Regions from separate parts of the Homo sapiens genome. Here region 2 is linked to region 1. Evidence: fine-mapped expression QTL. A gene starts in region 1. The other region holds a variant in brackets. All regions are shown on one strand. Distances are between the middles of the regions. Region 1 holds the start of PRKCD (protein kinase C delta). Region 2 has its middle 42 kb from the start of PRKCD.

The links. PIP is the estimated chance that this variant, and not a neighbour inherited with it, causes the effect.
Region 2: its variant is fine-mapped to the expression of PRKCD in whole blood (TOPMed, PIP above 0.99).

What each region holds. Positions count from the first base shown.
Region 1 is chr3:53,159,196-53,163,584 of GRCh38, reverse strand. It overlaps PRKCD (protein kinase C delta), which reads right to left and starts at 2,376. Exons shown (of 19, transcript NM_006254.4): 1 at 2,157-2,376. RefSeq lists silencers at 1,425-1,654, 1,925-2,874.
Region 2 is chr3:53,201,386-53,205,774 of GRCh38, reverse strand. No RefSeq gene overlaps it. Among named protein-coding and RNA genes, the nearest start is that of PRKCD, 42 kb to the right of the region's middle. RefSeq lists an enhancer at 2,575-3,074. The variant C/T (reference allele first, on the strand shown) is at 2,088.

The sequences.
Region 1 (4,389 bases):
TCTGCAGATAAGGACACTCAGCCTTGAGAGGCCTAGCTTGGGTCTCTTGCTCTTAACAGGCACAAGCAAGTATTGGAGCCCAAATAATTCTTGGGTACAGAGCCCGAGGTCTTGGTCACAACACTACAAACCCCAAGACTTGCCCTCTAGCCCTCTCCATGTGCACACCCACATCCTCATGGTCTCCCACACACTCACACACACACCCCCACACTGGGCTCTCACCTTCCCTCCCAGCACTGTCACCACACACCTTGTCACACCCCCTCCTGCCGCTAACACCCACGCCCAGGCACTCTCGGTTCCCCACAATCACAGTCACTCCCCAAGCATACACCGGCAGTTTCATAGACTGTGTCCCACCAGTCACACACTCCTACCGTGGCCACACACTCCCAGGCTTACCCCAGCACTGTCCCATCGCATAGCCCTCACACCACCCATCAGCCAGGTACAGCTGCCCAGACACCACCACACCTCTCTGTCACACACACACGCACACACACAACCACACATATCACACATGCACCATACAGCCTCCCTCTGCTGGCCTGCTCACCAAGCCCCAGCTCACTCCACAGCAGGAACGAGGAAACCCCAGGGATCAGTCCCCTCCCTTAGTGACCAGGTGGGCCTGGTCACAGAAACTCAGTGGCAGAGGGAGAGCCACACGTGAGTACACACACATACACACACTTATACAGATACACTCACACATGAGACTGGTGGGTAGGCACCCAACACCAGGGGCTTCCACAATTAACAGATCTAACGTACTCATGGCCAGTTGGTCACCATGATATACCCAGTGTGCAACACCGAAACCTCCAGACACACAGGGACACACACACTAGCAGGCAAGGACACACACACACACACACACACACACGAGTCTGGTGACAACAAACACACCAAGAATGGTACACACAGTTGCAAAAGACACACACAGAGCCTCAGGACACAAACAGACATACACACATACACACAAGCAAGTCACACATGCGAAAAAGGACACACATGCACAGGCAAGTCCCACAGTGACAGACAGCACAGAAGCTGACACAGACACACAACATACCCACACACCCAGATACCAGTGACTTAGCACAAGGAGACAGCTTCCACGCATACAGGGTAGGCGTCAGAGAAGGGGACCCCCCGCCCACTCACAGCAGATCCTTCTGACCAGGTTTAAGGCGGGGCTCGGTGGGGCTCTCCCCTGCCCCAAGAGAGAGGGAACTGGGGAAGTGGGAGCAGTTCCGATGGTGCTCTCCTTCTGCCGCTCCACCACCAGCCAGGAGGACCCCCCCCCCCGACCTCCTCCCCTCATCTGGTGGAGCCCCCACAACGGGAGTGGCATCTGGGTTGGGGGCGAGTACAGACCGTATCGGGCAGGGGCCACCCTGGGAGGGGTCTCAGAGGGGCGGAGGGGTGGGGTGGGAAGGGGGATGGTGGAGACTGGAGCCACGCCCAGCCCAGAGACGGATGAAGGGACCGAGAAAGACTCTTGAGACCGAAAGAAGAGACAGCGAGGAGGAGGCGCCGCGCGGGTCGGGCCTCCAGGGACCCAGGGGCGGGAGGCGAGGCCCGGCGGGCGGCCTGGCCTGGGCCCCGCGGTAGAGCGGAGAGGCGGCTGGACTGGCAGGGGGCGGCGAGCGTGGGCCGGGGGCGCGGCTCCGGGAGGACGGGATCGAGGGGGCGGCGGGCGGGGGTAGGGGTGTGGGTGGGGGTGGGGCGATGGAGCACGCGGAGGGCAAGGGACGGACGGATCGGGTGGCGAGGGACAGAAGGATCGGGTCTCGGAGAGGCGCGCAGGGGGAGAACACAGAGTGGGTGGCGACAGACGGACGGACACAGGGCCCGGGAGAGAGTCGGGAGGGACGGACGGGCCCCTCGGAGGAGCGGGAGACACACGGGCGGGTGGAGGGGCCGGGAGCGGGCAGACAGAAGGACCTCAGCCCCCACTGTCTAGCGGAGGGACACACAGACGGACAGGGGGACGGAGTCACCGGCAGGTCTCGGCGCGGCGGGACTTTCGCTGACCGCGGCTCAGTTTCTCAGTTTCGGAAACGGGAACTGGGGCGGGAAGGGGGAAGGAAGGGCGCCGCGCCCTCGGGGTAGCCCCGATCCCGCGCCCGGACCCGGCCCTCACTTACCTCCCGTTGCAGGGGCAGGCGCCAAGGGTCGCGGCGGCAGCGGCGGGGGCGCCGCTCCCCGGCGCGCGCGGACGGGGTTCGGCGCGGCGCTGACTGGGATGGGCCAAGCGGCCAGTGAGGTGTGGCCCGGGCCTCCGCGCGGCGGGCGGGCGCCGGGGGTCGCTCGGGAGATGTGGGCTACAGCCGCCTCGGGCTCCGGCGCCGCGGCACACGGAAGTGCGAGGGGGCGGGGCCGAGCGACCTCACCCAGGTGCCGCCGGCCCCGCCCCCGCCAGGCCCCGCCCCCGCCAGGCCTCGCCCTGCCAGGCCTCGCCCCGCCAGCTGCAATCGGGGACAGCGTCCCTCCGCCTCTGCCTGCGCGGGACACCGAGTCTCCCGGTCCCTCTGCCCTGCCTGGCCCTCTTCGCATCCTCCCGCCATTAGCGCGCAGCCAGCCCTCAGAAGGGGCCCATTTTACAGAGGAGGACGCTGAGGCCCGGTGGGGAGGCTCCCTCCGCCCGCTGGGGCCTGGGAGGGGCCGGCGGGGGTTCCCCCGCTCCCCACACCCACGCCCGGGACTCCCCACTGGCCAGCTGGCCCGCCTCTCCTGGCCCCACTCCTGCTCTTCCTGTTGGCTGGAGCTCGGACGCGGCCGGGCGCGGTGCCCGCCGCCAAGCCCGCTGTCCCGGCTCTGCCCCAAAGACTGAGCTGGTTAGACTCCAGGGTCGGAGGTTCTCGCTGGTCGGGCGCTGCACTGCTCCTCAGGCGGTTCTGGGAACTGCCCCTACTCGGACTGGCAGTTGCCCCTACCCCGATTGGCAGTCTTCTGCTTTCCTGCCCCCACCTTTGAGACCTCTCTATTGCTCCTGGCAGGCGCCTGAGCCTCCTTTCCAGACATGGAACTTGGTTGTCAGCCATAACTCCTTCATTCATTCATTCACTCATTCATCTATTCACCGAGTGTCCCCTAGGCTCAAAGTCTAGGGACCAGTTGGGGTTCTAGGGAGTCCATTCCCCTGTCCCCAGAGCTCAGAAAGCCAAGACATTAGCCTTATACTCATCCAAAGAAATGTCACTTCCCAGGAGACAAAAAAGAGGGTTCCAGGTCCTGGGGAACCACCTAGAAGGGATAGAGAAAGTCTAGACAGCTCTTCCCAGCTGAGACACAAGGGATGGAAGTGGGGGACAATCCCTGAGGTGGCCTGAGCTGAGAAAGGGGCTTGTGACAGAGACAGGCCATTGGACTTTGGTCTTCTCACAGAGCAATGAGAAGGTGGTGAAAGCTATTACAACCAGGCAGGATGACAGGCTCAAGGGGGCTCCTGCGGGATAGATGGGGCAGAGGGACAGCAGGGCAGAGGAGAGGCTGGATGGGGGACAGAAGGGCTGCCACGTTGTTCAGGTGGGAGGACCCTGGTTGAGATTGCGGAAGATGGATGGGGAGAAAAGGCCAGACCAGGTGGGTTCAAGGACTATCCTTTGGGAAAGACTTTCTCTTCACACCCAGGCCTTGAGCATGCTGTTCTCTGGGCCTGAATGCCATTTCCCACCCCACCCCCAAACCTCTACCTGCCCTGGTTGTGTCCATTCAAATGTCCCTCCTCCCTGATGCCCAGTTGTAATGCACGGCACTTCCCTGAGTGAAGGACCATATTCATTAGCATGTTCTGTGTCCTGATCCCATCCCACCCCACCCATCATGCCCCATGGCTTCCCTGGGGTTGGACTGGAGGAAAGGGTAAACAAGGTGAGCCTCAAGTGACCTTTGCCCACTTGGGATCGGGTTTCCTTCTGGCTCCTCCTTCAGGTCCACAGTAAGCCAACCCAGTCTCTCCCTCAACATAAACAATAGGCCCACCCTGTGCCAGGGACTGCAGCCAGAGGGAGGACTGACCCTTGAGGAGCTCCAGGTCCAGCCACCAGACCTTTGTTCCCACTCCGTGTGGTTCACCATGGAAGAAGGAAATGAATAATCATGGCTATCGCTGATAGGGGCTACCCAGCACCAGGCTGTGTGCTGGGTGCTGGATGTGGGCAGTCTGAACAGTTCTCAAGAGGTGAGGGCTGCTGTTAGTGCCAGTTTTGGTGATGAGCAAACTGAGGCTCAGAGAAAGGAGAAGCGACTTGCCCCAGAGTACACAGCTAGTCAGTGGCAGACGCAGATTCAGACCGAGGTCTGTCTGGCTCCAAAGCCCATAGTTTACATCAGGGATCTCAATTTCAGCACCACTGACCTTTGGGACAGATGATTCTT
Region 2 (4,389 bases), 42 kb before region 1:
TGGTGTGATCTCAGCCTATTGCAACCTCCGCCTCCCTGGTTCAAGCAAATTCTCCTGCCTCAGCCTCCTGAGTAGCCGGGACTACAGGCATGTGTCACCAGGCCTGGCTAATTTTTGTATTTTTAATAGAGGTGGGGTTTCACCATGTCGGCCAGGTTGGTCTTGAATGTCTGACCCCAAGTGATCTGCCCGCCTTGTCCCTCCGAAGTGCTGGGATTATAGGCATGAGCCACTGTGCCTGGCCAGTGCCTGGCCAATACCTGGCAATTTTTGATTGGGTGCCAGACATTGTGAATTTTGCCTTATTGGGTGCTGGATATTTTTTGTGTTCTCATAAATATTCTTAGGCTTAGTTCTACAATGATTTCTTGGAAATAGTTTAATACTTTTGGGTCTTGCTTCTAAGCTTTGTTAGGCAAGACCAGAACAGTGTTTAGTCTAGGGTTAATTTTACATTTTTTTCATGTTTGAGATAGGGTCTTGCTCTGTTGCCCAGGCTAGAGTAGAGTAGCAATCAGAGCTCACTGCAGCCTTGGGCTCCTGGAATCAAGTGATCCTCCTGCCTCAGCCTCCTGAGTAGCTGGGACTACAGGTATGCACTACCACACCCAGCTAATTTTTGTATTTTGTGTAGAGACAGTGTCTTGCTATGTTGCCTAGGCTGCGGGTTAATTTTTATCTGGTACTGAGGCAAAACCTCTCTGGGTGCTCTGAACAGTGATACCTTAAATTTATACAGTTTCCAGTCTGGCATTGTTCCTAACCCTGTGTGAGTTCTGAGGATTGTTCACTTTAATTCATTTAGAGGGCTTTCTCCCCAGCCTTGGGTGGTTTCCTCAGATGCATGCAATAATCAGTACTCAGCGAAGACTTGAGGAGGCGTCTCTGCAGGTTCCAGGCTTCTTTCTCTCCTTCTTTCTCTCTCTCTCGCTCTCTTGTCCCCAGTAGGATGCACTGTGAATTCTAGCCACCTTGGCTTGCCTGGACTGCCAGCTTCATCTACTCAACTTGGGAGTCCACTGGCCTCCACCTGGATCCCCCCTCCCTGTCCCACAGCCTGGAGACCCTCTGCAGTCAGTAGAGCTGGGGCAGTCAGGGCTCAGCTCCCTCGTTTCCCATCTCTCAGATCACTGTCCTTTGTTCCTGATGTCCAGCATCTTCAGAACTGCTGTCTCATCCATTTTGTCTGGAGTTTTAGTTTTTCAGGCAGGAGGGAAAATACAGTCCCCTTTTTACTCCATCTTGACTGAAAGCAAAATTCCACACCATTTATTTGGATAAATAAATTGTGGTAAATTTATGTGATGGAATGCCATTCAATCGTTAAAAGAAATGCACTTGACCAGTCCACAAAAGACCACGTATTACATGATTCCATTTACTTGTTGTTTTGAGATGCAGTCTTGCTCTGTTGCACAGGCTGGAATGCAGTGGTGCAATCTTGGCTCACTGCAACCTCTGCCTACCAGGCTCAAGCGATTCTCCTGCCTCAGCCTCCCAGGTAGCTGGGACTACAGGTGCCTGCCCACCACCGTGCCCAGCTATTTTTTCTTTTTCTTTTCTTTTTTATTTTTTTGAGATGGAGTGTTGCTCTGTGGCCCAGGCTGGAGTGCAGTGGTGCAGTCTTGGCTCACTGCAACCTCCACCTCCTGGGTTCAAGCAATTCTCCTGCCTCAGCCTCCTGATTAGCTGGGACTACAGGTACATGCCACCACACCCAACTAATTTTTGTATTTTTAGTAGAGACAGATTTTCACCACATTGACCAGCCTGGTCTCGAATTTCTGACCTCAGGTGATCCACCTGCCTTGGCCTCCCAAACTGCTGGGATTACAGGAGTGAGCCACCTCACCCAGCCTAGGGGCTGCAATTTTATCTCTACTTGTTTCTTCATCTGGAACAGAATCACTATACTTTTTTAAATGTCTGAATGTTTTCTGATATTTTTTTTCTCTTCTGAGACAGATTCCAGGCTGGAGTGCAGTGGCACGAGCTCAGCTCACTGCAACCTCCGCCTCCCGGGTTCAAGCAATTCTCTTGCCTCAGCCTCCTGAGTAGCTAGGACTACAGGCGTGCGCCACCACACC[C/T]GGCTAATTTTTGTATTTTTAGTAGAGATGAGGTTTCACCATGTTGGCCAAGCTGGTCTCAAACTCCTGACCTCGTGATCTGCCCGCCTCGGCCTCCCAAAGTGCTGGCATTACAGGCATGAGCCACCGCACCCAGCCTTTTTTTTTTTTTTTTTTTTTTTGAGAGGGTCTCACTCTGTCACCCAGGCTAGAGTGCAGTGGCGCAATCACAGCTCATTACAACCTTGACCTCCCAGGCTCGAGCGATCCTCCCGCCTCAGCTTCCCAAGCAGCTGGGACCACAGGTGGACCACCATGCCTGGCTAATTTTTTAAGAGATAGAGTCTCACTATGTTGCCTAGGCTGATCTCGAACTCCTGGGCTCAAGTGATTCTCCCACCTGGAAATCATATCACAACTCACAAAGTGCTAGGATTAGAGGAGTGAGCCACCATGTTTTCCTAATAAGACAACTTGTTAGATAAATCACTCATTTTCCCTCATGCCAGGTGCCCTTCCGTACCCTGCAGGTGCAGCACCCCGCTGAGGCCAAAAGCCCAGTGCTTTGGTTTGACTTCCCATCGCCAATGCAGAAAACCACTAGAGAGTTTAACAAACAACTTTTCCTCTTCTCTTGAAGTTTGTCTTTGGCTTCCACTGAAAAAACAACTTTCCTGCCACCCCTGCCTGTACTCCATCTCCTCCAACCTTCTAAAAGCCCCCGGAAAAGGCTGTGGAGCTGGTTGGGGAGCCATCAGTAGTACCCCTGTGGGCACAGCTGCCCCCGTGCCTCCACCGGTGGCCGCTGCTCCGCCCTCTCTCCCCAGACAGGTTGTCAAGCTGCCACTGCCACGAATTCTCCCATCAGCACAGCCACTGCCTGCCGCCTCCAACAACAACTGCCAGGCTCATTATAACCTCCACCTGCTGGCCACAGCAACCGCCTCTTAGCACACCCAGTGGCGGTGGTTAAACTACTTTATTAAACCCATCATCTCACCTCTACTGGTTCCCCCTCACTGAGAGCTCACTTTTGATCCAGCCTCACACAGGCTGAAGTGGGACTAAATTAGGCCTGGCCTCGGCAGTGCAGGTGCTGCACCAATGGCTAGCCAGAGGTGGGAGCAGAGATGCTGTTCCTCAGGGGACCGCATGTCCTTGGGCCAGGGTGCCTGGTTGTTGGGCCAGGATTCCCAGGGTCATGCACACCCCTGCCTTTGCCCAGCTCCCCGGGCTTTGCTCAGGCTGCTTCCTCTGCCTGAGACTGCCTGACCCCAGCGTCTCGCCTACTCATTCTTTCTAATTTTTAAAAACTGTGAAATGTCATATCCATAAAGAAAAGCACATAGAACAAAAGAACAGTATAACAAATTATTATAAAAGGACGCCTGGGTAACCAGCCATCAGATCAAGAGTCAGAACACCTACATATTCTTTAAAAGACACTTTAAAAAATTATGGATCATTTGGAACACAGAGACAAGCACAGAGACTAAAATAGACAACGAGCATCCTCATCTGTGTGACTCTTGAGGCCACCAAGGCTGTCCCCAGCAGAGACACTGCTGGTCTTCAGTGCCCACAGAGTGCCAAATGACTTTCCAGGAGAATGGGGCCAACTTACATTCCCACTGCTGCGAATAGTGCCTCCCCCATAACCCCGCCCTGCCCAACACCTACACCTACCACCAGCACTGGGTATTATCAGACTTGAAAAGTTTTGCCAGACTGACTGTGAGAGCTACTCATTCTTTGGGTCTCAGGATTACATGTTCCTCCTGATACAGGGCAGATGAGCCTCAAAACTGGGGCTTAGCCTCGGAGGGTTCTTGGCTTTACCCAGAAAAGAATCCAAGGCCAAGCAGTGGTGTTAGGCAGCAATTTCTTTTGTTGAGACAGAGTCTCCCTTTGTTGCCCAGGCTGGAGTGTAGTGGCACAATCTTGGCTCACTGCAACCTCTGCCTTCTGGGTTCAAATGGTTCTCCTGCCTCAGCCTCCCAAGTAGCTGGGATTACAGGTGCCCACCACCACGCCTGGCTAATTTTTGTGTTTTTGTATTTTTAATAGAGACGGGGTTTCACCATATTGGCAGGCTGGTCTTGAACTCCTGAGCTCAGGTGATCCACCCACCTCAGCCTCCCAAAGTGCTGGGATTACAGGTGTGAGCCACCGCACCTGGAGGACAGCTATTTCTATGGAAGCGGCAGCGTGCAGCAGCATGCAGCAGCAGCAGAGGCACTGCTCCTTGCAGGGCAGGGCTACCCCACAGGCACTGTGCCGTGAGTAGCCACGCAGAGGCAGTTCTGCAGTCAAATTTATACCC